Linked DNA regions of Homo sapiens: all the other regions are linked to region 4. Evidence: fine-mapped expression QTL. A gene starts in region 4. Each other region holds a variant in brackets. All regions are shown on one strand. Distances are between the middles of the regions. Region 1 overlaps UST (uronyl 2-sulfotransferase). Region 2 overlaps UST (uronyl 2-sulfotransferase). Region 3 holds the start of LOC107986659 (a long non-coding RNA gene). Region 4 holds the start of UST (uronyl 2-sulfotransferase). Region 5 overlaps UST (uronyl 2-sulfotransferase). Region 6 has its middle 63 kb from the start of UST. Region 7 has its middle 150 kb from the start of UST.

Region 1 (4,068 bases), 110 kb before region 4:
TTATGACAAACCCACAGCCAGTATCATACTGAATGGGCAAAAACTGGAAGCATTCCCTTTGAAAACTGGCACAAGACAGGGATGCCCTCTCTCACCACTCCTGTTCAACATAGTGTTGGAAGCTCTGGCCAGGGCAATCAGGCAGGAGAAAGAAATAAAGGGTATTCAATTAGGAAAAGAGGAAGTCAAATTGTCCCTGTTTGCAGATGACATGACTGTATATTTAGAAAACCCCATCATCTCAGCCCAAAATCTCCTTAAGCTGATAAGCAACTTCAGCGAAGTCTCAGGATACAAAATCAATGTGCAAAAATCACAAGCATTCCTATACACCAATAACAGACAAACAGAGAGCCAAATCATGAGTGAACTCCCATTCACAATTGCTTCAAAGAGAATAAAATACCTAGGAATCCAACGTACAAGTGATGTGAAGGACATCTTCAAAGAGAACTACAAACCACTGCTCAAAGAAATAAAAGAGGACACAAACAAATGGAAGAACATTCCATGCTCATGGATAGGAAGAATCAATATCGTGAAAATGGCCATACTGCCCAAGGTAATTTGTAGATTCAATGCCATCCCCATTAAGCTACCAATGACTTTCTTCACAGAATTGGAAAAAAACTACTTTAAAGTTCATGTGGAACCAAAAAAGAGCCTGCATTGCCAAGACAATCCTAAGCCAAAAGAACAAAGCTGGAGGCATCATTCTACCTGACTTCAAACTAAATGACAAGGCTACAGTAACCAAAACAGCACGGTACTGGTACCAAAACAGAGATATAGATCAATGGAACAGAACAGAGCCCTCAGAAATAATACCACACATCTACAACCATCTGATCTTTGACAAACCTGACAAAAACCAGCAATGGGGAAAGGATTCCCTATTTAATAAATGGTGCTGGGAAAACTGGCTGGCCATATGTAGAAAGCTGAAACTGGATCCCTTCCTTACACCTTATACAAAAATTAATTCGAGATGGATTAAAGACTTAAATGTTAGACCTAAAACCATAAAAACCCTAGAAGAAAACCTAGGCAATACCATTCAGGACCTAGGCATGGGCAAGGACTTCATGACTAAAACACCAAAAGCAATGGCAACAAAAGCCAAAATTGACAAATGGGATCTAATTAAACTAAAGAGCTTCTGCACAGCAAAAGAAACTACCATCAGAGTGAACAGGCAACCTACAGAATGGGAGAAAATTTTTACAATCTACCCATCTGACAAAGGGCTAATATCCAGAATCTACAAAGAACTCAAACAAATTTCCAAGAAAAAAATCAAACAACCCCATCAAAAAGTGGGCAAAGGATATGAACAGACACTTCTCAAAAGAAGACATTTATGCAGCCAACAGACACATGAAAATATCCTCATCATCACTGGCCATCAGAGAAATGCAAATCAAAACCACAATGAGATACCATCTCACACCAGTTAGAATGGTAAAAAGTCAGGAAACAACAGGTGCTGAAGAGGATGTGGAGAAATAGGAACACTTTTACACTGTTGGTAGGACTGTAAACTAGTTCAACCATTGTGGAAGACAGTGTGGAGATTCCTCAAGGATCTAGAACTAGAAATACCATTTGACCAAGCCATCCCATTACTGGGTATATACCCAAAGGATTATAAATCATGCTGCTATAAAGACACATGCACACGTATGTTTATTGCGGCACTATTCACAACAGCAAAGACTTGGAACCAACCCAAATGTCCATCAATGATAGGCTGGATTAAAAAAATGTGGCACATATACACCATGGAATACTATGCAGCCATAAAAAAAGGATGAGTTCAC[G/A]TCCTTTGTAGAGACATGGATGAAGCTGGAAACGATCATTCTGAGCAAACTGTTGCAAGGACAGAAAACCAAACACCACATGTTCTCACTCATAGGTGGGAACTGAACAATGAGAACACATGGACACAGGGTGGGGAACATCACACGCCCGGGCCTGTTGTGGGGTGGGGCAAGGGGGGAGGGATAGCATTAGGAGATATACCTAATGTAAATGACGAGTTAATGGGTGCAGCGCACCAATATAGCACATGAATACATATGTAACAAACCTGCACATTGTGCACATGTACCCTAGAACTTAAAGTATAATTAAAAAAAAAAAAAGAAAGATGCAAATGTTGTTCCTGGGTATGTCTGTGAGGGTGTTGCCATTTGAGTCAGTGGACTGGAGAGGCAGACCCACCCTCTATCTGGGTGGGCACCATCAAATCAGCTTTCTCCATCTTTCTCCCATGCTGAATACTTCCTGCCCTCGAACATCAGACCCAAGTTCTTCAGCTTTTGGACTCTTGTTACATCAGTGATTTTCCAGGGGCTCTCAGGCCTTTGGCCACAGACTGAAGGCTGTACTGTAGGCTTCCTTACTTCTGAGGTTTTGGGACTTGGATTGGCTTCCCTGTTCCTCAGCTTGCAGATGGCCTGCTGTGGCACTTCACCTTGTGATCGTGTGAGTCAATACTCCTTAATAAACTCCCTTCATATATACATCTAGCCTATTAGTTCTGTGCCTCTACAGAACACTGACTAATAAAAAATGCTTTCACAGTCTTAGAAGGCATTGTGTATGTTTGCATTACACAATATATTCTATAATGTTGCTACAAGTAAACATACTCTTTGCATTCAACACATACTTGGGTTTTTTTTCATTTTCGCCCAAGTGTTGTTTTTTGCCTAATGAAGATTCCTATTCACTGACAGGAGAAACCACTATCCTGTGGTTTCTCAACCACTAGCCACCCAGACCTGGATCAGACAGAAAAAATAAACAGAGGTGGAGAAGCACTTGCTATGCTTCTTCCTCCTCAAACATCTGGGAATTTTTTTTTTTTTTTTTTGAGATGGAGACTCACTCTGTCTCCCAGGCTGGAGTGCAGTGGCATGATCTCAGCTCACTGCAACATCTGCCTCACATCTGGGAAATTTCATAAGGGGTAAGAGCACTTCAAGACCACCTGGAATCTTCACCATGAATAAGCTCTACAATATCGGTCAAGCCACTCAGCTTTTCTGAGTCTCTTTTCCTCATATGCAGAATTGGAGTTAAGATGACTATAACCGAGTATCTAATGTCATGGTGCAAATACAGTCTGTGCTCTAAGTTCTGCCCTTGGTAAGTTAGATATACTTACCCAGTTGTGTTAATTGACTGTGCATTCACGGGAAGGAGTAGATACAATGTTGGCAGAACTTACGGTGGGCGTAATACATTCGCTGTGCCTTAAAGGATGGCTATGACTCAACTCAGTTGTGATAAAAGGAATATACATTTACAGTGGGAAACCGTATAGTCATGAGAATGACAGGCAGAATCAGCTTGGTGTGTATGTGTGTGCTTAGGGGGCTCTGACCGTGAGAGTAGCTGTGGCTCTCCTTAGAGCATCCCTACAATTTGTTGCAGAGCTTGTGGTGAAAATTCACAGTTGAAGCCAAGTTCTGTTCACTGAATGTGTTTAACAATTTCAAGATGTTGTTAATTGACTTCCTCATAAAAATGATGAAAAGCCCAAAAAATTCTAAGATGACATACTACTACACCTACATTCATTCCCTCCTTTAAATTATATATAATAGGCATATAGTTTATATATTATGTATATATAAGTAATATATGTAATAATATATGTAATTTATTATATAATGTAATATATATATCACAAAGCTCTCATTGCCAGTATTAAGTAATTCAGCTATAATAAATTATTTATTCTAAAATGTTATCTCTGATTTTCCTCCTCAAAAAAGGAGGAAAAAAGAGAAAGTCAGGGATTCAACCACAGTAACAGTTTAGATCCCAATTCTCCATAAGCTTTGGTATGAAGACCAACCTGAAATGTAACTTAGGGCAAGTTTACACCTGTCATTTTTCTATTCTAGTCAGTTCAAAGGCAGCCTTCCTGACCAAGGCAAATAACTCACGCATAAACACGTGATTTACCCAGATCATCTCTGACATCCCACAAGAGATTATGTGGGAAAGCCCGCCCCGCAACCCTAGTCCCATCTCTTCAAGAGGTAGCTACCGCCT
Region 2 (4,068 bases), 84 kb before region 4:
GGGGCTCAAGCGATCCTCCCAACTCATTCTCCCAAGTAGCTGGGATCACAGGTACATGCCACCATGCCTGGCTAATTTTTGTATATTTTGGAGAGACAGATTTCGCCGTGTTGCCCAGGCTGGTCTCCAACTCCCGAACTCGAGCAATCCGTCCGCCCTGGCCTCACAAAGTGCTGAGATTACAGGCATGAGCCACTGCGCCTGGTCAGGTTCCACAATTTTAAAAAACATGCTTATACTATTTTTCTATCATTGCAGATAACTGTTTCATTATACCCTATGATACTGTCTTCATAGTCCTAAATGAAGCAGTGGTGAGAAGGTCATGAATGATCTGGTGCTTTTTCTCAGGAGGACAGGGGGTCAAGAATGATTCCATCAAATGGTGTTGGATAAGGGAGCTCCTATACTTTCTTTTCTTGTTATTAACGATTTGAGATGAAGGCTTTTTCTCATGCTTTTCTATGGGCTATTTGTTCTGACAGTTATGACAAAGAAAAGATAGAAATACAATACTGTCTTGGCATTGCTTGTTAATTTTAAGAAGCAAGTTGAAAAACAAATCAAAGAATATAATACTTCAGGAGTTTTGAGTCCTTACCTAAATATCAACTAAAACTCATCTGACCGAGCTCCAAATAGAAACTGACTACACTGCACCACTGGGTATCCCAACTCTAATAAGGTATTGTATCCTAAGGCTCATGCCACTGGATTTGCATTTTCTAATTCACTTTCCAATGCAAGATTACTTGGACTTCTGATGAAAATGCTCCTCCAAACAACTAAATCACCATCAGGTTTATAACCAACTCAATGTGTGATAGTCCTGACACCATCACCCCAACCTAACGCGGCACATGGTTATTTCACTCTATGGGATGCTGATCAGTTTTTGGTCTGTCTCAGCTACATCTTTAAATTACACTTGTGCTGTACTCAGATCCTAAGGGCTTCATACTAAGACATGTAAATTATATCCATAAGCAAGATGTTCAGTTGATAGTTTTTTCAAGGATTAAAAAAAATTAATATGCACACCAAAACTTGGCATCCCATTTTGGATGATTTCAATAAAGATCTCACAATATCCTCAGATACATCTCAGAGTCAGGAAGAACACATTTACGGTGTTTGGTTTAAAGTCAATTAATATTCTTTTGGGAGGCCGAGGCAGGTGGATCACCTGAGGTCAGGAATTCAAGACCAGCCTGGCCAACATGGCGAAACCCTGTCTCTACTAAAAATACAAAAATTAACTGGGCGTGGTGGTGCATGCGTGCAATCCCAGCTACTTAGGAGGTTGAGGCAGAATCGCTTGAATCCAGGCGGTGGAGGCTGCAATGAACTGAGACTGCGCCACTGCACTCCAGCCTGGGCAATAGAGAGAGATTGTCTCAAATAAATAAATAAGTAAAGTCAATTAATATTCTACCAAATGTATTTACAAGTATTAGACCCATTGTTTATCATCAGGTTGGGTAATTGAGTTTAACTGCAGTGAGTCAAAACTGAATTGGAATCCACCACTTACTAGCCCTATATATGACTTCGGGAAAGTATTTAAGCAATCTGGGTCTCAGTTCCACCCCACCTACTTTCTTTTTTTTATTTTTTTTAAGAGATAGGGCTGTACTCTGTGCAGGCTGGAATGCAGTGGCACAATCATAGCTCTCTGCAGCCTTAAACTCCTTGGCTCAAACAATCTTCTTGCCTCAGCCTGCCGAGTAGCTGGGACCACATGCATGAGCCACCGCACTCAGCTAGTTTTCCTTATTTTTAAAATAGGGGATAACAATTGTTCTCATCTCTGAGGGTTACTGTTAGGATTATATGACTTCTTATTTGTCGGGCACTTAGCACAGTGTCTTGCTTCCGATAAGCACTATATAAATGTCTGCTAAGTGAAAATAGAAAATACAATGCCTGGCACTCAGAAGGGATTCTATAAGTGATAACTAAATCTGAAGCCAATAGCAATAAAGACTTAATAAAACAAAACTAAACTATAAGGCGAATTTCCTATAATAATAAAGTAAAAAGAATACTTGTCTGTGAGTCATGAAATGACTGTCCCAGTCACAAATACACCCTGTGGCTGTGGAAAAGACACTTCCTCTCTCTGCACCTGAATTTTT[T/C]CATCTGCAAAATGAGAGAATTGTACCGCAGAAGTTACAGTAGCTTCCAGATGCTGGTATGTGGCTGCGAAACAGTCGGCGCTGGTCTAGTCTGTGAGAAAGACGAAAGCAAAGGGCACAAAGGGCAATGTGTTGATCTGCTTCCTAAAGTTATATTTAATCATTTTAAAGGAATTTCCTTCAAGATTGATTCTTCCCACCCCCCCCTTTTCTTTCTTTTTCTTTCATCTTTCTTTTAATTTTCCTTTCTTTTCAATGTAAAAATTTCTTTTCTTTCAAGCAACGGTGATGAAAGCAGAATTTTACTGTGGCAAAATACATATATAATTTACCATTTTTAAGTGGACAGTTCAGTGGCATTAAATACATTCACAATGTTGTGCAGTCATCACCACTATCCCTCTCCATAACTTTCTCATTAGCCCAAACTGAAACTCTACACATTACACAATAGCTCCCCATTTCCTCCTCCCCCCTGTCTCTGGCAACCACCATTTTATTTTCGTTTCTATGAATTTGACTACTCTAGGTACTTCAAATGAGTGGAATCATAAAACAGTGTCTTTTTGCATCTTGCTCCTTTCACTTAGCGTAATTTCTTGATGGTAGAATTTTTAAAAATGTTTTTACTTGACAGTCCCCAAGTAATGCTCTTCCTAGTTTCTAATCCAAAAAACCACTGGACTAGAAAACCTCTAAGGTCTCATCTAGCACTAAGGTTCCATAGTTCTATGATCAAGGGCAGTGGTCACATTTTCAGTGCATTGTGGCACCCAACACATTGTGGGTGAGTGCTCCCGAAAGGAAACGATGCGGCAAGACCCTGGGGCTGCTGCTTAGTCCGGTCGTCTTTGTGGGGATAGAATTGGATAGAATATGTGTTGGGTCTATCACTTCCCATATTAATTGCCATATCTCTTTTGTGCTCTAAACTAGTTATACTATAAATGTAGAAATGAAAGGATAATAGAAAATACAGTTTTTGAATGCATGCATCATGTTGCCAGACAAAACCTGGCCCACTTGCCACAAACTGGCAAGAAATTGGTGGGTGTGGTCCAGTTTCCAGCAAATTCTACAAAGCACCTCCTCATGTCTGAACTTTGAGCAATTCAGTAAGTCACTCTATTAAGGGAACTATTTTAGGGAGGTATTGGTTTCTCCAATTACCTTAAAAATCACAGATCTCAGGTTTTGCTGTTTTTCACTCACCCAGCCTCATGGACAAGAGGCTTCAGGAGTTGTAGGCTTTATGTGGCATTCATCATCCATCTTTTAAGTGTAGTGCCTGGTGGTTTTTAAATGTTAACAAAGTGATATGCAAGTCTTTTCCTGTGCTACTAACCCCAGGATGTTCTTGCACTTTAAGTCACAAACTATGAAATTACTTTTTAAAACACCTTCCAAAATAATAGTCCCTAGGTCAGACCAAAGCAAGTAGAGAAATACATAATGATGGGTTGGTAAAATTGTTTTGTGTTTTGAGAATTGAAGCTATGAGTAACTATTAGAAAGAAGAGGACTACAAAGAACAAAGTATTAAAACAAGTGTTTCTGAATATATAAAAGTGAACCCCCAACCATTCCAAACAAACCGAGGGTAAAAATAAGGAGAACACTCGTCTGTGAGTCATGAAACCAGGAGAACACAGTGATCACAGGGAGAGGCTGGTGCAGAGTCCAGCAGAGAAATGATGGCCTCAAAAGGGCAAGTAGAGATGGTGAGAGTGGGGTGGATTTGAGCCGGATTTTGGAAGTAGACTGAACAGCACAGAGAACACTTAATTCTTGTGTCTGGAATCTCATACAATATATAATTAGCCCATGTGCTCTGCCCGCTTCACAATGATGCTCACACATGGCTGAAGATTTCTGCATTTTCCAGATAGGGAAGTTGGGCCTAGAGAGGGTCATTAGTGCAGAGGGTGCC
Region 3 (4,068 bases), 27 kb before region 4:
CATTAAACTTTAAGTTTCACTTCAAAACTCACCACGTGCAGAAAAGAATGAGATGATTCTGCACAAAACTGGTCATCACAATAAAACAGCTTTATTTCCAAGTCCCTGAAAGGCTCAGTTGCGTCATTGACCACACTCCCACCCTCAAAAATCCACCGCAAACACTTCTGCTGAGAAGAGGATTGAACACATAGGAAAATGTAAGCTAATGGTCATATTTTTAAAAATCTTGGAAGAAGATCCACTAAGGGCCTGAATGAGAACCAGAAAGTGCTCCTCTTCTGGAAACCAGGACTGGAGGTCTGAAGCAAAAGCCAGAATTTCTCTAACACAGAACAACACCAGGCTGGTATTTAAAGAGATCTTTCTTGTCTATTTTTTTTCCTTCAGAGGAGGCAAATTTGCCCTATTAATTCAGCCAAAATAAATAAGGACAATTCTCTGGAATTCACATGTCCTTTAAAAAATGCAGAAAATAAAGTGTAAGTAATAAAATTTCAGCTCATAATTCCTCCAAGTTATAAAACAATAGCAATAACAATCAAATATATACGTCCTGTTCTCCTAGAACAAGGTATAAAATTCATATTTTACCAGGCCGGGCGCAGTGGCTCACACCCGTAATCCCAGCACTTTGGGAGGCTGAGGCGGGCAGATTTCCTGAGGTCAGGAGTTCGAGATCAGCCTGACCAACATGGTGAAACCCCATCTCTACTAAAAATTTCAAAAAAAATTAGCTGGGCATGGAGGCGTGTGCCTGTGATCCCAGCTACTCGGGAGGCTGAGGCAGGAGAATTGCTTGAATCCAGGAAGCAGAGGTTGCAGTGAGCCAAGATCGTGCCACTGCACTCCAGCCTGGGGGATAGAGTGAGACTCTCTCCCCGCCCCAAAAAAAAAAAAATTTAATTAAAAAAAGAGTTACAATCAACTAAAACCAACACAGTTTTCAGGGATGTATGTGTGTATGCACACCCACATGCACACACATACACATACACAGAGGTAGTTTCACAGTGACTGCTGAAGTTTAAATTTCAGGAGCCCTTACTTTTATGAGCTCCTTTCCAAGTCTGAGGGGTGGCTCTAACAATAAACGCACATGCTCACGTTTTTTTTGCAAAATCTGCAAAAGGAAACTGCCATTGGTAAAGACCACCACCTCGCTCCATCCTAACTTCCCCTTCTCCACACAACCTCTCACGCTGGGCGACACTGCACTGGAGTGGGCATTTTTTTTTAACTGACAATGTTTTATTCTTTGTCCTAAAGGAAGCTGTCAAATTCACATAATATTCAAGCCCTGCAAAACTTGGCAGAGAACAATAAATACAAGACCAAGAATACTAGTTACCTCAGGTAGAGGGCGGGCCTAGGAGGGACGGAGAGGATAGCATATGTATGTTTAAGATATTCTCAATATTGGGAAACCCTTGTTAGAGGTGAGATCATTATGAAGTCAAGGAGGAATTAACAAGCTTTTCTTTCATGCACTCTTTTTTTTTTCTTTGAGATGAAGTCTCACTCTGTCAGACTCCAGGCTGGAGTGTAGTGGCGTAATCTCGGCTGACTGCAACCCCCGCATCCCAGGTTCAAGTGATTCTCCTGCCCCAGCCTCCCCAGTAGCTGGGATTACAGGCGCCTGCCACCATGCCTGGCTAATTTTGTATTTTTAGTAAAGACGGGGTTTCACCATGTTGGTCAGGCTGGTTTCGAACTCCTGACCTCAGGTGATCCGCCCACCTTGGCCTCCCGAAGTGCTAGGATTACAGGCGTGAGCCACCGCACCTGACCTCATGCACTCATTTTTCTCTGAAATTCACAAATCCTCTAAAAAATGCTGAAAAGAAAGTCTGAGTAACAAATTTTTCAGCTTGTATTTTCATTCCATTCCCCCCACAGATTTTTGTTCTAACAGATTATACTTCACGCTTGAAATTACTGTATTGATCTCTCTGTTCTATTTCTACATGACAAAACTATGTAGGTAAAGTAAAATTCATTTAAAAAATATTCTTGTGACCATAATGCTTTAA[A/G]AGTTTAAACTATATATCCTGAATTTGAGTTATTATTAAGATTACCTTTGTTTCACAGTTGATCAAAACAATATAAAGATTTTACACATTTCACAAATAATTAAAATCAAAAGTGGAATTTGATCATAAATACAGTGAATAGGGCCTTGTCTATAAGTAAATTTCACTGATTTCAATTTTATTCCTATTTATTCATTATATTTTTATATATATATATATATATAAAATAACCTTGTTCGCTTTAACAGACAGGAATGGAGAGTGTTTAGTTATAGCCGTGTCACACGCTTCTTTAACATCTTTCTAAATCCCATAGTGATCTGTTGGTGATCTACCTGAGGGGATAACTAGATTAGATCCTCCTTCACTTTGGTTGAAAGCCAAGAATAGGAGCCACGTGACCTGCAAAAGGGTTTGCTGTAGTCACTAGTCATTCACTTTCTCCATGCCAGGATTTTGAATTCTTCCTTTGGTACCTGGAGGTGTTTGACACCAGCATAGAGTCAGATAAGCTTCTTTATAAAGTCGGGGAGGACAGAGGGAAGCTGGTGGGAATTGGGCCGCAAGACAAGTTCTCAGGGAGATCAATTTTAGGGAAGAATAATCTGGCAGCAGACATTTGGCAATTTGATTCCTCTTAGACAATCCCTGCTCAACGCCCATCCCGCTGGAAGTCTTTGCGTTCATGGCGCCCCACGTACAAAAAAATGCTATTCTGAGCCCTAAACCTGGCATTTGGTGCAAATTCACACCTTCACTCTGACATCTGTCCCTCACACTGTCCTTTTGTTCAGTGTAAAACAAAAGTATGGATGCCCTACAAAAATATGTGAACAAAATGTCACCCAACGGAAAGAATTTGAATATTTACCTTTCCCTGTGTACTAAAAGAAATGTAGTTTTGTGTGTGCATAGAAAACAGTCTTCTGGGATTTGCATTTACCTCATTTATACTTGAAAAATAAATTAGACTCTTAATACATACATGTCATATAATTCCAAACATGAAAAACAATCACTTTTTTTTTTTTTTGAGACAGAGTTTTGCTCTTGTCACCCAGGTTGGAGTACAGTGGCACAATCTTGGCTCACTGCAACCTCTACTTCCCGGGTTCAAGCGATTCTCCTGCCTCAGCCTCCTGAGTAGCTGGGATTAAAGGCATCTGCCACCACAGCCGGCTAATTTTTGTATTTTTGGTAGAGATGGGGTTTCACCATGTTGGCCAGGCTGGTCTCGAACTCCTGACCTCAGGTGATCCCACCCATCTCAGCCACCCAAATTGTTGGGATTACAGGCGTGAGCCACCAGACCTGGCCAACAATCACCATTTTAAAATTCATATAAATTTAGGTAAAATTAAAAGATATGGAAATTTAAGTCTCAAATTGTAATGCACTTTATAATTCTTTCAACATAGATCCTATTTTCTATAATTTTTTTTAAAATTCCTTAAACAATTTTGTGAGATCACGTACCCACCAATGCCTAGAATAAGAATATGTCAAGACTTGCAAAAGTTTGCTGAATTGGAAAAAGAGGTTCGCAAAAAAATGTTAATAAAGTTGTTGAAAAATAGTAAAATCAATTCCATCCTCTAATTGACAACTATTGTAAAATTGGAAGTATGTTTGATCTTTTCTTAAAAGTTCCTCTAACAGATAAGGTTTTAAGACATTCAAAATATGTTCATTTGGAATTTCCCCCTCTGAGAAAGATTCTGGCCCAGATCTCATGTCTTAGGGATGGGGAGTAACACTGAAAGCTCAGAAGGGGCTGGACACGGTGGCTCAACCTGTAATCCCAGCACTTTGGGAGGCCGAGGTGGGAGGATCACTTGAGGCCAGGAGTTTGAGACCAGCCTGACCAACATATCGAAACCCTGTCTCTTCTAAAAATGCCAAATATTAGCCGGGCATGGTGGTGCACACCTGTAATCCCAGCTACTTAGGAGGCTGAGGCATGAGAATCGCTTGAACCCAGGAGGCAGAGGTTGCAGTGAGCCAAGATTGTGCCACTGCACTCCAGCGTGGGTGA
Region 4 (4,068 bases):
CCATTACACTTTTCCCTACACCCCTGGCCTCCATCTATTACTTAAAAAGAACTTCCACAAGAATTCACTGTCAGATTTAATGGAGAAAGACCCTGAGCCTCAACGCTTGCCTCCCAATGCCTGTTAACAGGGATTGCTGCTGGTGATGAAAATACTGTTAACTTTTGTGGCACTAGCAGGTGTCAGAGAGTGGAGGAAGCTATGAGACTCCACAATACAGAACTTATGAAAAGAAGAGGTTTGATTCCCTAATAAAGGATATATTGCCCCAAATCCTCTATGAAACCAAATGCTATGGAAATCTACTTGGGCCAACTTTTCCTGTAATCTGTAGTTCCCCAAAGTTTATAAAGAAATAAAAGTGTAACTTTTAAAATATGAGGTCTTGTACAAGGTAAAGAATATTATTTTATCCACATCTACATTTCCAAATGCCCTAACACATTTGTAACTTGGCTGATGTGGTTTTGTTTTTGTTTTGCTTTGTTTTGTTTGTTTGTTTTGGGTTTTTTTTTTTTCCTTTTCTTTTCTCTTTTCTCCAAACGGTCTACTATCTAGACCTGTGGCTTCTGCCACGAAGTGACGTTTGGGGTAACTGTGGCAGCCTCCAGCTGGCCCGGGTCATTTGGCCCATTTTCTTTCCAGCACTTCGGTGGCTCTGCTTCCCCGCACTCGCTCTCATCGTGCAGATGCTCAGGCTTATCACTTCGGATGCTTGCAAGAAGCTGGAGCTCTCCCAGCCTTCACCCCCGCACGACCTCTTCTGGCCACAGACTTGGGAGGGATCTGCATCCTCCCTTGGCTCGAACGCGAGTGCCAGCATCGTCCTTGCGACCTGGGCTTGCGCTCGCCTGTCCCTGGCACCCCTGGCTCCCGCAGCCGAGACGAGGGAGCTGCGGGGTCACGCCTTCTCGCTGGAGCGGCTCTTTCCCTCCCGTCAAACCCCTTCCTTACTTCTGCTAAAGACAGGCGGCCTCTCTCCTAATAAACCACACACACACACACACACACACACACACACACACACACACACACACACACACAAGTTTTGACTTGAGCTTGAGACGCACACAGCGCCGAGGATCCTCGGGTTACTGGGGGCGACACTGCTGGCCAGGCTGACCAGCGCCCTCGGGCATCCCCAAACCCCTGGATGCAACCCGTTCCCCGCGCCAGGCTAGCTGCGGGCGGCGGGGTGGGCAGCGGCAGCCAAGGGACAAGCCAGCCCGGGGACAGCGCGGAGCCACTAGGGCCGGCGGGCAGGCGGGGGATCTGCGGGACAGAATTCTCAGAGCGGACGGTGGCAAAGGGCTAAACCCACCCACACTCCCCGGGGCGCGGGACGGGACTGAACTGCGGTCACTAACAATGCAACGAAGAGGACCTTCCCTTCCCTTCGCCACTCCCCGCGCCGCCAGGCCTGAAGATACACACACTCCGGCACACCCCACACACCCATCCACTCCGCCCCAGTCCGGATCCGGGTGGCGGAGGTGGGGCGGGGGGAAGGTGAGCGGTGCCTCGCCCCGGGGTACCTGCCGGCAGCGCAACCCAGCGGCGCCCCCGCCTCGGTGAGGACAGTCGGACGCGCGGGAGGAAGAAGGCGCTCCCGACCGCGGCACAGATGCTCACGGGCTTAGCACCTGGAGAGACCCGGGGCGGCGGCGGCGCGCGGTGGCAGCGCGAGAAGTCCCCGCCGCGACCCTCTCCCCGCCGCACAACTTTGCGCTGTCGGCGCCGCCCTAGCGCCTGCCCAGCTTCCTTACCCAAGTACTGCCGCAGGTCGAGCAGGAAGCGAGGGGGTCCCCCGCTGAGCTGATAGAGGAGGGAGCCCAGGCAGAAGACCAGCAGGGTGGCCATGCAGAAGCCGTAGTCCCGGAGGGAGAAGCGCAGGAAAGGCAGCAGGGGCACCCGACGCTTCCAGCTGCCCAGGCCCGGAGGGGCGCCCCCCATAGGGGCCCCATGGGGCCAGGGATCCGCGCCGCCGCCGGGATGCTGCTGCTTCTTCTTCATCGCCTGCTCCGCTGCCTCCCACAGCCTGCCCGTGCCAGGAAAAGGTCACCCATCCGCCGCGAGGAGGAGAGCCCGGCTGGCCGGCTGCACATGGGGAGGGCCGCGCGGAGGGCAGCCGGGTGGGGGCGGGGAGGGGCCGAAGTTGCCGGGCTCAGGAGACTTTCTTCGGCATGGTCCCCGCCGCCGCGGCCCGAGCGGCCGAGGTGTCCGGCCCCGGTTCGGGGCGCTGCCCGTGACGGGGCGCCGCGCCCGTCCGGCGCCCGCTAGCGTCCCCACGCCCCGCGCCCCGCCGCGCCTCGGGCTCGCTTGCGGCCGCCGGGGCTCGCCTCCAGCGCCAGCGTGGACCCCCCGGCTTTGTGTCTGTAGGTCTCGGCGTGTTTTGTCCCGGTTCAGGCTTCTCTAAAAAACGGCAGGGAGGAACAGGAGGCGGACACCATCCCCTCGCTCCACCTCCTTGACAGGGGTTTTCCTCCTTCTCCTCCCCTTTCTCCCTCCGGCGCTCCGCAGCACTCTCCTCCCTCTCCCCTCCCTCTCCGCTCGGGTCTCGGGATTTCGCTCGGGTGTCACGTTACTGCTTCTGCTGGGGGCGGAGGGGGGGAGGCGGCGATTATTCGCAACAAGGAAGAAAGTTTCTGGGTGTTTTCTTTTTTTTTCCTTCCCCCGTTCTTTACAATCTGGATGCGGTTCCTGCGCCACCAGCGACCTCTTGGGGGCCCCGCTGACTTCCCTCTTGTAAACAGTCACCGGCAGGAAGAAGCACGACTGACTTTACTATTTACATTTTTTTCAGTTCAGAAAGTTGATTCTCCTTATATACCCCGTGCGAGCTGCTTACCCAAGGCTGATAAAAGGTACTAGAATACAGGCTCAAGACTTTGCTGAAATGGGAAAAGAGCAAGCGGTGCGAGTTATGGTCAAACACGCCCCAGAGGGCCAGGCGCAGCGCCTGAACTCCCGGGTAGGGTAGCCGAAGAGGACGCTCTGTTCTTGCTTTTCCTGGTCCTACAACTGCTCCACCTCGCAGTGCCCAGAGAGGCAAGTGGGGGGTGCATAGCGGACTCTAGGAGGTCATTGCCCTGCAGACATGAAGGGGAAAGAGCCCAGTCCGCCTATACGCTGATTTCATTGCTGCCTCTCTTCCCTCCACGGGAAAGCCTCTGGACCTGAAAGAACCTCCTGGGGCAGAAAAGGCTCAATCCTAGACATAGATCCTCTGATGGGGTGGTTGATCCACGGAAGGGCTGCTCTGATCAGCCACACTTTAAGTAAGAATACTATATCACTATTTATAGAAGCTGTAGCACCTGAGGGCTGTGTGACTCACCCGAGGTCCCAAAGCTAGTAGTAGGAGTTGGGTTGGGAGTTGCACTCAAATCTATTTGACCCTCAGACCCACTATACTAACCACTGCACAGCAGTACTTCCCAGCCAGAGCCCTTTTCCTTCACGTCCCATAGGAGGATGAGATTTAATTCATTTAGTTCAGGCCACATTGAGAAATGGAAACCTCAGTTTCTGGTGCCTATCATTTCTGGCTCCCTACTCATTTGTATATTCCAGTAATGAACAATTGGATTTAAGAAGGAACCAGGAGCCAAGAACCTCTATGATTCTAAGACTAGGCTCCTGAAAACCTTCATCAAGTTAGGCATCTGAAGAATATTCTGTGGAAAATTACAAAATATTATCCTAGACAAAGAACTTACTCGTTAAGAATATGTCTTAACCTCAGCTACTCAGGAGGCTGAGGCAGGAGAATCGTGTGAACCCGGGAGGCGGAGGTTGCAGTGAGTCGAGATCGCGCCATTGCACTCCAGCCTGGGCGACAGTGCGAGACACCGTCTCAAAAAAAAAAAAAAAGAAAGAAAAGAAAAGAAAGAAAGAAAGAATGAATATGTCTTAACCATGTTCATATATGAATGTCTCTGGTTCATGATTTGAAACATATATCATGAGCTAGAGAGATGTGTAGATGAGGTGACAGGTGCTGCACACACACAGAGACACACGTACACACACACAACTCTACTGTCCAATTTTACATTGTCCTAGCCC
Region 5 (4,068 bases), 170 kb before region 4:
TTTAAACACTGATTAAAAAACATGGAGTAATCACAATGAGATACCACTTTATAGCCACCTGGCTGACTATAATCAAAAAGATGAACAATGACAAATGTTGGCAAGGATACAAAGACACTGGAAGCCTCCTACATTGCTGGTGGAATGTAAAATGGTGCATCCACTTTGGAAAACAGTCTGGCAGCTCCTCAAAAAGCTAAACATAGAGTTACTATATGACCCAGAAATTCCACTCCTAGGTGTATACCCAAGATATGTCCCCAAAGTCTTGTATTGAAATATTCGTAGAAGCATTATTCATAATAACCCAAAAGTGGAGACGACTGAAATGCCCATGAAATGATAAGCAGATAACTAAAACATGGTATGTCCATGCAATGTCACTATTTTAAGCATAAGCATTTTTTTTAAGGGTGGGAGTTGGGTACAGGCAGCTGGACACTAAAAGGCTTATGCCTGTAATCTCAGCACTTTGGGAGGCCGAGATGGGTGGATCACTTGAGGCCAGGCCAAGAGTTTGAGACCAGCCTGGCCAACACGGTGAAACTCCATCTCTACTAAAAATTAAAAAATTAGCCAGGTGTCATGGGGCATGCCTGTAATCCCAGCTACTTGGGACGTTGAGGCATGAGAACTGCTTGAACCTGGGAGGTGGAGGTTGCAGTAAGCCGAGATCGTGCCACTGCACTCCAGCCTGGGTGACAGAGAGAGACTCCATCTCAAAAATAAATAAATAAAATAATAATAATAATAAAAGAAGGCCAGGTATGGTGGCTCATGCCTGTAATCCCAGCAATTTGGGAGGCCGAGGCGGGCGGATCACGAGGTCAGGAGATCAAGACCATCCTGGCTAACACAGTGAAACCCTGTCTCTATAGAAAATACAAAAAAAAAGTACCTAGGTACTCCTAGGTACTGAGGAGGCTGAGGCAGGAGAATGGTGTGAACCCGCGAGAGGGAGCTTGCAGTGAGCTGAGATCGTGCCACTGCACTCCAGCCTGGGGGACAGAGCGAGACTCCGACTCAAAAAAAAAAAAAAGAAAAAGAAAGATCATCTCTATGCAAATAAGGAATAGTATTCTGCCATAGAAAGAAATGAACTGATACCTCCTACATGGACAGACCTCGAAAACATTATGCTGAGTAAGAGAAGTCAGACATAAAGGCCACATATTGTATATTGTATGATTCCACTTATATGAAATGCTCAGAATCCTGTAGGCAAAATCATAGAGACAGGCAGTATGCTAGTGGTTGTCAGGGGTTGGAGGTCATGGGGGATGTGGGGAGTGACAGTCAATAGGTACAGGGTTTCTTTTTGGAGTGACAAAAATGCTTTGAATTGGACAGTGGTAATGGTGGCAAAATTTTGTGAATATACTAAAAACCACTGAATTGTACACTTTAAAAGGGAGAATTTCCTGGTATGTGAATAGAATTACATTTTTGAAAACAATAGTGTACATTTTATCTCTCTTCCCCACCATGAGACTTTCCAGTGCTCTCTTCTCCACTCCCCTCTCATGTTAAATCTGAGGTTGTTTCCTGTGGCCGATGTCCTCCTTACTAATTCTGGCTCTGATGATGCTGGGTGTTTGAGGAGAGGGTGGGGACTGGAGCCCTGCTCTGGGTAGAGATGTATCACATGGCTGGGGCACAGGGTGGAAGAGTGGGGCATGGGTGGCGGCAGTGGGGACAGCCAACTGGAGGGAGATGGGGCTCCAGAGGCACCAGACCATGGGGAGTGGCACTTCATGACTGCGACTGGATGCTGAAGGGCCTCTGTCCCCTTCCTGTGCTTCCATAACCCACAAGGATGCTCCAGGTCCATCCTGCTCAGAGGAAGTTTCTCTATAGCTGTTCACCTGGAGTGCAGAAAGCTTGGTGGGTCTCTCCTCCCAGGGATGTGTGCATTCCAAAGGATGGCTCCAGAGAGGGAAATGCTTAATTAATTCTAACACAATACCTGTTCCTCATAGGCTGCCAGACAGAGAGTCCCTGGAGAGGTAGAGTTTTTGTTTTGGGGCTCCAGCCTAATCTCCCCATACGGATGGAATGCTTTTTCACAACCACCCAACAAACAACAAGCATACTATACAACACACAAAATCACTTAGGAAAAAGCAAGTTATGATTGCTGTTGGACCCAAACACTCACGTCTTCTCCATCTCTGGGCGATTCTCCTGTTCACTTGTTGGACTTACAATTATTAGTACAGAGCTTGGCACTAAATTATTCTCAACTCCTTAATCTGTATGTATTTAATCTTCCCAGAGAGACTACAGGCAGGAGCTCTGTCTTCATGGAACTCTTCCCCTTCCAGGCAAAGGATGAAGCTCAGCCCAGGGACTCTGGATTCTGTCTGCCTGGTTGCCACCAGCAATTGGCCATTAACTGATGTTATTTAAACCTTCCTTGTTAGAACTAATTAATAGACTCCTCTTGTGTACTATCAAGAAAATGCCTCTGAGACTTTTGCAAGTAACTGCATCTAATTACCT[C/T]TCCAGCCATCTATTTTAGGTGCCAGAAATGCCTAATGAGGAGAGCTTATAAAGGGGTCTATAACACTCGCTGGTAGAGGCTCACTTAGCTGCTGTTTGTCCTTCTGACGCTCCTGATGGGAACACGGTCAGGGTACAGAGATTTATTAAAAATAACACACCATCTCTTAAAGAGTCCCAGTCTTGCTTTTAAAAGAGCAGGCAAGAAATCACAAGGAATTATTAAAAAACAAAAGCACTGGGAGGTAGAGACGAGTGAGTAGGTTGAGCCTGGGAGTTCGAGAGCAGCCTGGGCAACATGGTGGAATCTCATCTCTACAAAACACAACAAAAACTAGCCAGGCATAGTGGCATGCACCTGTGGTCCCAGCTACTCAGGAGGCTGAGGTGGAAGGATTGCTTGAGCCCAGGAGGTTGAGATTGCAGTGAGCCAGGATTGGGCCACCGCATTCCAGCCTGAGTGACAGAGCAAGATCTTGTCTCAAAAACAAATAAAAGCAAACAAAGAAACCTCTCGAGGGTGGGCAGGAGGGTTGGAGTGGAAAAAGGGAGGGAAGAACTTTGCTCCTACCCCTCCATCCTCAGGGCATCAGAAGAGGGTGAAGCAGGGGGCCTCCAGAGAGACCACATTGGCCAGTGTGGAGGATGGAGTGGTGGGGGCGAGGCTGGAACCAAAGACATCAGCAAGATCTGTCTCAAAACGTACAGCAATTAGGACCAAGAGGCTCACAATGTGTCCTCTAAAGGTCAACAGCTAGCATCAAAAACCCTGAAGATGAAACAAAATCTACCATGTATTTAAATGAATGGAAACATAATTGGGAGTCTAATTTGTGTAAAGATAGCTGGGTCTCAGCCAATCACAAGCCGGTCTAAGCTTCAGCCAATAACAGGCTACCAACTGATCAGACCACATCCAGTGAACGCAAAGCTGAGCTGTAAGGAATCAAGTTTTTTGTGTACCTGCCTTCTACTCTGTCTATAAATACTGCCCATGATGCAGAGTGCAGCTCTCTCTGAACCTCTTATGATTTTGAAAACTGCCTGATCCATGAATCATATTTTGCTCAAATAAACTGTTAATTTATTAAAATGTTTCCTTTTAACAATGTTATTCTAGTAAATATGGGCCTTTAAACCTGTGTCTTCCTGTCTAGTCCTCAAACTCAAATTAAGCCATTTTAATGGATGACAGTAGTCAGAAGCCACCTGGCAACACCCTGGAAAGTCTAAAAGGCTTAACTGGTGCCATAGCCATTAAAAAAGGAAATATGTTTTAGAAATAATGACCATAGATTACTTGTTTCATCAAACAGGACAAAATATTTAGAAGAAAAACATCAAGAACAAACTTGGCACTGAATAACAGTTTTCAGAAGACAAACTATTTTGAAAACTTTTGGGTTCTGCATTTTGCCATGACCACCATGGTACCTGTGGGACAAGATTATGAAAGCATAATTATTTCATTATGTAGAAAAACCTTAAAGACATACCTTCTTCCCTGCTGGACTGGGAATTCACTGTGGCTATAGAAGCAGGTGTTGATAGTCATCTACTTGTAGC
Region 6 (4,068 bases), 63 kb after region 4:
CACACAAAGGAACATACAAAAACGCTTTGGAAGTGATGGATATGTTTATTACCTTGATTGTGGTTATAGACAGGTGTGTGCCTATGTCCAAACCCATCAAATTGTATACATTAAATGTTCAGGGTTTTTTGCAAATCAATTATACCTTAATAAAGCTGTTAAAAAAAAGATGAGTTTGTCTATGTTGTCCTTTTGTCTCTCTCAACCGTCTCAAAAATGACTTTTTGAGAGTCAGAGATACCTTGATGAGATTCTACAATATCTACTTAGGATCTCACACTGTCTCTCTAATAATTAAAAAGGAAAAGTATTTAAGCTAAGTAACCCCAAGATAAGAAAAAAACATTGCCCTGATAACATTAAATTAAATTCTGCATCCTCAAACTCTAAGATTTTTTTTTATTATATATTTATTTTTTGAGATGGAGTCTTGCTCTGTCACCCAGGCTGGAGTGCAGTGGTGCTATCTCAGGTCACTACAACCTCTGCCTCCCAGGTTCAAGCAATTCTCCTGACTCAGCCTCCCGAGTAGCTAAGATTACAGGTACCCACCACCATGCCCAGCTAATTTTTGTATTTTTAGTAGAGATGGGGTTTCGCCATGTTGGCCAGGCTAGTCTTGAACTCCTGACCTTAAGCGATCTGCCTGCCTCGGCTTCCCAAACTGCTGGGATTACAGACGTGAGCCAGCGTGCCCAGCCCTAAGTAAGATTTTAGAAAAAAAATAAAGTATCCTAGTTATAAAGGTTACTGGGACCAGGAAGTTACCCTTTTTATTTCTGAAGGAACTTCAGGTTTCCCTGAAATGAAGGAGATACAGACGGGGTCTTAACAGCAGTGAGAATCACAGATAAATATGACTCCATTTATGGGGCTTTAAATTACTTTCCATAAAAATAATGTGGCATTTTTATTTATATATCACTGGGTAATGCTTAAACTTAATGTAGTTAGTGCTAAGGGGCAGCTGGAGTTTTATATATTATTTTTATTTCTGGAAGGTAATCCAAACAAGAGCAAACCACAAGTCCTTCTAACACTGCAATTCCTGCTCTTAGTCTATTCTAAGCACACATACCTCAGTCCCATTGAAGATGCATCACTGAGATGAATTCAGGTTATCCTACGAAAATAGTATAACCTGAGATGGAATGAACAGCAATTAATTTCTGCCATTCAAAAACATCTTGTGCAACAATGAATATCAGTCTCCCACCCCACCTCTGCCCAACCTGCAAAATCATGGTTGAACAAAACACTCTAAATTACATAAATGGACACATAGACTCCCAGGCTCTGCTGCAGAATGTGTTTTGAGATTGCAAACATAATTTAATCCTTGACAATTTCTCTCCCTCCCTCTCGTCTCCACTTTTCTAGGCCAGTATAGATGTTTCTGTGTTCAAGTTTTGTTTCGCTTTGATATAATTTTTGTTGTAGTGAAACAAGAATCTACCTATTCATGTGGGTCCCCAGCTACCAAAAGCCTCCTCTTGAGGGTTCCCCATATGCATTTCACATGTGCTTAGAAATGTGTCTGGCCAGGTTTCAGGTCATCTTCCATCTATCCATTCTGATACCTGTGTCAGTAAGAAGGTCTTTTAGCACCTCTATTTCTTCTTTAATTCTGAGTATTTCCTGTTTCCTTTTCTTATCCCTCCATCCTGTCTGGGCTTCTGGCAGTTTGAGCCCGGAGGTCCAGATTTAGAGTATAATTAGTAAGCATTCCATCCCTTAACCCCAGGGTCCTTGGGAGCAGACTGCTCTGCTGGCCCTGGCCCTGCCCCTGCAGGATATCACCCCTGATGCTGCCTCAGGAGAGCCCCACCCAGATTCTGCAGGGCCCACCACACCCTCCAGACCTGGTGGTCTCCTTCTGGGTAGTGCTGCTGTAGGCACAGACCTCTGCCTACGACCACAGCTTCAGCTGCCACCAGCGATGCCTGGGAAGCTTCCAGGTACCAACACTGTCTGCTGGCCACTGTCCCCTTCCCTATCTCTCTCATATCACATTCCTTTAGGGAATTACCCAAGCAAAGCAAGTATATCCCAGTGTTAGCCTAAATAAATAAATAAATGCTCCAATTATGACTTACAGCCCCTTCTCTTCCTAGAACCCAGATGTAGAGTCTTGTGTACTGATGACAGATCTGTGAAACTGGCACAACACTGTGCTCCAAATTCCTCCCCACCGTTGACCA[C/T]GAAGCCTCTATGGCGGTATCAAGCTGGTTGTGCCCGGTTCCTTCTTCCCTTAGGATGAATTACCTCCTAGGAACCTCCTTAGCCTCTGGAAATAGGCTTTCATCATCTCATCCTACCTGCCCACCAGACGTAACCGGAAGTGTCTAAATCCCAGGAGTGGCTGCAGTTCTGCCTCAGGTAAGACCTCTCTTCCTTTGAAAAGAACAAAGTCCATTTGAGACTGAGAATGGGATGACATGCTTCTGGACAGTTGCATGTGGGGAGCATCTCGTGGTATTTACAGACGTGAGGTATGAAGAATGCAGAGGGAATGAAGGAGCCTTAGCCAGGCCCTAAACTAAAAAACAACAAAACTAACTTCTAAGTAAATGAAACTTACCCTGTTGCTCTCACCTAAGTGAGAATGGTTGGTGGTTTTAAAGTATATTTCAATGGCTCTTTACCCAGCATGTATTTTGCTAAATTTTATACTAAAGTTATAGGTTAGCTTTGACATGATTGCAAATTTGTTTTCTAAGCTATTCTAGGAAGCTTAATTATGGAGCCCTAAAGGAAGTTGAAACTTCCCTGTGCAATTTATAAAAATCTACTTGTAATTTAATGTACAAGCACATTACAATGTAAGTATAATCTACAATGTATACTTAACACACCACACACGGTGCACATATCTGCATATTACAACATACAGAGCGTATCCTATAGGGACCATTCTTGAGATTTGGGGTGCTGACTAATCATACTCTTGCTCTCCTCTGGGTTCTAATCAGTTTGCTGTGTAAACAGGAGACAGATGGGAGGTCACAGAGTGCCAAAGGGTTAGGGGGAGAGTGAGGCTTCCTTCTTCTCCCCCGGCTGAATCTGACTTCCCCTCGCAGCCACAGACAATGCGGCTGGGGAGTTTCAGTCAGGAGAGGCCCTTCCTGCTGAGCTCACCACGAGGGAAGGTGAAATGGGAGGAGGTGGAGATGTGGACCTGCTCCCTGGTGTTGGATTCCACTTCTGCTTTGGCTCAGTTCAGAGCCTGTTGGACTCTTCCATCTGTCCAGTTAAGAAAGTAACTTCTTCCAAAAAGAGGAACTAGTAGAGGAAGAAAGAATTGAGAAGCTTCCTGATTTAGTACGTCCTGAAGATAGTGACCATATTGGGGGAGAGGGAGGAAGCTCTTATTTTAGGCATTAAAATGAGTGTAAGAAAATAAAAGTGCCTTCCTTTAGGAGAGGCAGAACTAGTTTTTAATATTTTATGGAAGCTACTGGAGAGTTAGCATAAGCTGTAGAGAGGTCATCTTTAAAGCAAACATGGTATAATAAGCCATATCTTAAAATGTAATTTTAAACTTAGACCAAACTATTCTATTTTAAATTGGGACTTTTTAATAACAGAATTCTGTCCAGTTTTTTATGATCACATGTGCACATGTACACGTGCACACGGGAACACACACACGAATAGGCAAAATAATGAAAGGATATCCACAAAGACAGCTCTGTGTGAAATTCAATGTGGCATTGTTTTTATCTTTTGGTTTATCAATTTTTTTCCCTGAGATTTCCAAAATGTTACTTTTCTAATAAGAGAAAAAATGTGTGTGTGTGCGAGTGTGTGTGTGCGTGGTGTGTGTCCATGCACGCATGTGTGCTTGCACACACGTGTGTACGTTCACATGTGCCTGTGTGTGTGTGTGTCCACGTGTGTGCTTGTGTGCACGTGAGCCTGTGTGTGCATGTGTGTGTATGCACGTGTGTGTGCACGCACGTGTGTGTGTTTAAATAAACAATTCTGTAGCTCCTGAGCATATTCTGGCCTGATGCGTAACAGCAGGAATAAACAAAGTCAAACCATCGCTGTCCTGGGGAAACCTTG
Region 7 (4,068 bases), 160 kb after region 4:
TTGGCAGGGCACAATTTTAGAGAGGGATCGGTGATGCTGTTTTAGACACGGCAAGCAAGGAAGGCCTTTTTGAGGAGGAAGTTGATGAAGAATGGAGCTCCGTGGCTCTCTGGGAGGAAGGTCACAGGAACAGATGTGCAAAGGCTCAGACAGTGGAAAATACTTCACATGCTCGAGGAACCCCAGACAAGAGTGACTGGAGCAGCAAGGGTCAGGAGGAGACGGAGAGGATATGAGGTCAGAGACCATGGTTAAGACTTAAAATTTCATCCCAGTGGGAGTGAAAGTCCCCTAAGGGTTTCAGCAGCCACGTGGCCTCCTCTGAATGCAAGGGAAATGGAGCCACTCCTGCCCAGTCAGAGTTAACTGGAGTTTTATGTATGGCTTACACTTGTACCGCTAAGTAGAGGTACAGAGGGAAAATTTGGGCGATAATTTAACTTTTGACTGGATGAAGGCACGGGGGTGTCAGAACGGCTCATTTTTTTCCCTAGATAATTTAGTTTCACAACCATGCCTTGTAACTGGCTGAGGGCCTTATCTGTCAGAAACTTAGCCATCCGGCTCTACAAATGAAATCTCATGAGCTCTCACTCCTCATCTGGAGCCTGGACCCCTCAATGGGGCCCCAGGCAGCAGGGCAACAGCATCATGTCAGCATCATGTCAGCGTCCTGCCACCCCTCTCCATGCAGCAGAAGCAGACGGGAGAAAGGGCGGCGACTCCTGTAGAGAGGGGGCTTAACCCGTGAGCGTGAGAGGCAGTGGTGGAAGTCATTTGCTAAGTCAGAAGAGGCCCAAACATAGGGAAAAGGTCGTGTGAGTATAATTTCAACTTCCACTTCCATTTCACGGCCACATGCCACTTCTCGTAGTCATAACAATGTTAAAACTGGAACAAAATAATCGTTTAGGGAACTTCAAGTCCTATAAATGATCAAACTGTGCTGAGCAGTGCTAGGATTCCACAGAGGTGACTCAGGGACACTCTGGAGAATGTCACTGGATGTGAGGAGAAGCCCGTGGGTGGACAGAGGGTCTCCTCCCTTCCAAGCCCTACCCTCTGCTTCCATCTATGCTGGATTGGCTATTTATCTAAGATTTTGCTTCAAGGAAGAGTTTTGGCGCCAAAAAGTAAACAACAACAACAATAACAACCAAAAAAAACAGATTCTGAGATTAATTAGGACTAACTATGTGCCAGGCACTCCACTGAATTTTTTTTTACAAACATTATCTCATTAATCCTCCAATAGCCCTATGAAGTAGATATTATAGTCCTATTAATGAGAAAATTAAGACTTAGTGGAGTTAAGTAAATTTTTCATGTCTCACAGTACTGCAAAGCCAAGATTTGAACCCAGGCCAACTCATCTGACACCTCAACCTCAACTCCTAACTTTTATGCCATCCTGAAAAAAGAAAACCTATCAACCAAGGTTATTCTCATTACCATTCAAGGAAATGTCTTAAAATGTTTAGAATAGCCATTGTGTTCATCTGCTTGGGCTGCCAGAACAAAGTATCACAGACTGCATGTCTTAAACAACAGAAATTTATTTTCTCACAGTTGTAGAGGCTAAGAAGTCCAAGATCAAGGTGCTGGCAGATTTCGTGTCTGGTGAGGACTCCCCTCCTGGATTGCAGATGGCACCTTCTCACAGTGTCCTTTCATGACCTTCCTTGGTGCACACGTGTGCAGAGAGAGAATGCTGATATATTTTCCTCTTCTTAAAAGAGCACCAGGCCAGGCGTGGTGGCTCACGCCTGTAATCCCAGCACTTTGGGAGGCCAATGCGGGAGGATCAAGAGGTCAGGAGATGGAGACCATCCTGGCTAACATGGTGAAACCCTGTCTCTACAAAAAATATAAAAAATTAGCCGGGTGTGGTGGCACGTGCCTGTAGTCCCAGCTACTCGGGAGTCTGAGGCAGGAGAATCACTTGAGCCTGGGAGGCAGAGGTTGCAGTGAGCTGAGATCGCACCATTGCACTCCAGCCTGGGCAACAGAGCGAGACTCCATCTCAAAAAAAAAATTTAAAAAAAGGTACCAGACCTATCAGATTAGGGACCCATATGTGTGACCTCAGTTAATTTTATTACCTTCTCATAGTTGCTATCTCCAAGTATTGTCACATTGAGGATTAAGATTTCAACATAAGAATTTTGAGGATACACAAATATTCAGTCCTTAACAGCCATAAAGGCTAATATAATACTGACACTTATAGAGCTTTCACTATTTAATATATCCTTATGTAGTGCTTACTCTAAGCAGAGCCCTATTCTAAGTGTGAAAATATTGACTCATTTAGTACTTCCAATAGCCCCAGGAGGTAGTTGCTATCAATATTTTCAGATAAGGAAAAGACTGAGGCACAGAAAAAATGATTAATTTGTTCCCTAGTGGTGAGCAGTGATGTAAACCTGTCAAATACTTCACACACACACACACACAAAAAGTTTAATCATCCCTCAGCCTCCCTGGGGGATTGGTTCCA[C/G]AACTCTGCAGATACCAAAATCCCTGGATGCTCAAGTCCCTGATACAAAATGGCATAGTATTTGCATATAACCTGTGCACATCCTTCTGTATACTTTAAATCATCTCTAGATTACTTATAATACTTAACACAGGCCAGGTGCAATGGCTCACACCTGTAATCCTAACACATTGGGAGGCTGAGGTGGGAAGATGGCCTGAGCCCCAGAGTTTGAGATGGCAGTAAGCTATGATTGTGCTACTGCACTCCAGCCTGGGCAACATAGTGAGACCCCAACTCTAAAAAAAATTTAAATACCTAATATAATGTAAATGTTGTGTAAATAGTTGTTACTGTATATTGTTTCCTATTTGTATTATTTTTTGTTGTTATATTGTTATTTTTGTTGTTGTTGTTTCAAATATTTTCAAGTCAGCATTGGTTGGATCCAAGGATGTGGAGCCCACAGATTTGGAGGGCTGACTATAACTGAGGGATCAGGCTCCTTTCCCACCCATGGCTCCACCTTCTTCAATGGATGCTTCCCATGTCACCATGGAAGGGAAAATAACGTGAGAGGTTCTATGCGTCAGCTCTGGCTTCCTCTCACATTCCATTGGCTAGAACTCAGTCATGTGACCACACCTACCCGTGAGAGAGGCTGGGAAATGCAATCCAGTTGTGCGTCCATGACAAAAAGGAAAACGTTAGGTGAAAAACTCGCAATATCTTCTACTATAAAGACACAATAAGTAATATAAAATATTCTCAATTTATTTGGAGAAAATAACCCAATTTCTGTATTTGATTTTTTTAAGTTGCATATCCAGGAGGGCTAAATGGCAATAGATAATTTTTTTTTTTAAGCAAATGACATTTTCAGAATAGAGTAGCCACATGTCCCAAGACAGAATCCACATCATTTACTGCCTGTGCCAGTGCCATGGCTAGGCAATCTGTGAAAGTCTCCCCTTTGTTTTTCTTCTTTTTCCTGTGTGCACCCCTATTCTTTCCCTCTGAACCTTATTTCCTCCTCCCCACCAGTTTCATTTTCACTTTTGTGTGGTTCCATTCTCACCTGTTTTGGGCATGAATGGACAGGGGCACCACAGACATCACCAGCCCCCCTCACTTTGGTGGCCCTTGAGCTGAAGGAGGAAAAAAAGCTGTTTAGTGGAGCTGAGAGGGGGCTGGGCACAGATAGTGCCTGGTTTGTCCCAGCCCCGACACTTTCCAGCTCTAGTTGACCCAGGACAACTTTGCTGCTCATTTTTCCCACTGGTTAAGGTCCAGGTGTATACAGGAATACGTTGGAGATATTGTGGGTCCTGTTCAAACCACTGCAATAAAGTGAATGTCACAAAAATGCACGTCACAAAAATTTTTTTGTTTTCCCAGTATATCTAAAAGTTATGTTTACACTATACCACAGTTTATTGTGTGCAAAATCATTATGTCTAAGAAAACAATTCACATACCTTAATTTAAAAATGCTTGATTGCTAAAAAATGCTAACAATCATCTGAGCCTTTGACACATTGTAAGCTTTGCCAGTGGAGGGTCTTGCCACAGTGTTGATGGTGGTAATT

Evidence for each region. PIP is the estimated chance that this variant, and not a neighbour inherited with it, causes the effect.
Region 1: its variant is the best candidate, but not a certain one, in a credible set for the expression of UST in whole blood (TOPMed, PIP 0.66).
Region 2: its variant is the best candidate, but not a certain one, in a credible set for the expression of UST in whole blood (INTERVAL, PIP 0.64).
Region 3: its variant is the best candidate, but not a certain one, in a credible set for the expression of UST in pancreas (GTEx, PIP 0.68).
Region 5: its variant is the best candidate, but not a certain one, in a credible set for the expression of UST in anterior cingulate cortex (GTEx, PIP 0.67).
Region 6: its variant is the best candidate, but not a certain one, in a credible set for the expression of UST in lymphoblastoid cells (GTEx, PIP 0.66).
Region 7: its variant is the best candidate, but not a certain one, in a credible set for the expression of UST in sigmoid colon (GTEx, PIP 0.58).

What each region holds. Positions count from the first base shown.
Region 1 is chr6:148,856,573-148,860,640 of GRCh38, reverse strand. The region is part of intron 1 of UST (uronyl 2-sulfotransferase); the gene reads right to left. Among named protein-coding and RNA genes, the nearest start is that of UST-AS1, 110 kb to the left of the region's middle. The variant G/A (reference allele first, on the strand shown) is at 1,821.
Region 2 is chr6:148,829,345-148,833,412 of GRCh38, reverse strand. All of the region lies in intron 1 of UST (uronyl 2-sulfotransferase), which reads right to left. Among named protein-coding and RNA genes, the nearest start is that of UST, 84 kb to the right of the region's middle. The variant T/C (reference allele first, on the strand shown) is at 2,139.
Region 3 is chr6:148,772,460-148,776,527 of GRCh38, reverse strand. The region is part of intron 1 of UST (uronyl 2-sulfotransferase); the gene reads right to left. LOC107986659 (a long non-coding RNA gene) reads left to right here and starts at 2,965. Exons shown (of 2, transcript XR_001744408.2): 1 at 2,965-4,068. The variant A/G (reference allele first, on the strand shown) is at 2,034.
Region 4 is chr6:148,745,376-148,749,443 of GRCh38, reverse strand. It overlaps UST (uronyl 2-sulfotransferase), which reads right to left and starts at 2,414. Exons shown (of 8, transcript NM_005715.3): 1 at 1,767-2,414. The coding sequence starts at 2,013. It overlaps LOC124901425 (a long non-coding RNA gene), which reads left to right and starts at 3,845. Exons shown (of 2, transcript XR_007059806.1): 1 at 3,845-4,068. RefSeq lists enhancers at 276-775, 776-1,277, 2,586-2,665, 2,726-2,785 and silencers at 1,456-1,625, 1,926-2,015.
Region 5 is chr6:148,919,464-148,923,531 of GRCh38, reverse strand. The region is part of intron 2 of UST (uronyl 2-sulfotransferase); the gene reads right to left. Among named protein-coding and RNA genes, the nearest start is that of UST-AS1, 43 kb to the left of the region's middle. The variant C/T (reference allele first, on the strand shown) is at 2,503.
Region 6 is chr6:148,682,281-148,686,348 of GRCh38, reverse strand. No RefSeq gene overlaps it. Among named protein-coding and RNA genes, the nearest start is that of UST, 63 kb to the left of the region's middle. The variant C/T (reference allele first, on the strand shown) is at 2,202.
Region 7 is chr6:148,590,112-148,594,179 of GRCh38, reverse strand. No RefSeq gene overlaps it. Among named protein-coding and RNA genes, the nearest start is that of UST, 150 kb to the left of the region's middle. The variant C/G (reference allele first, on the strand shown) is at 2,501.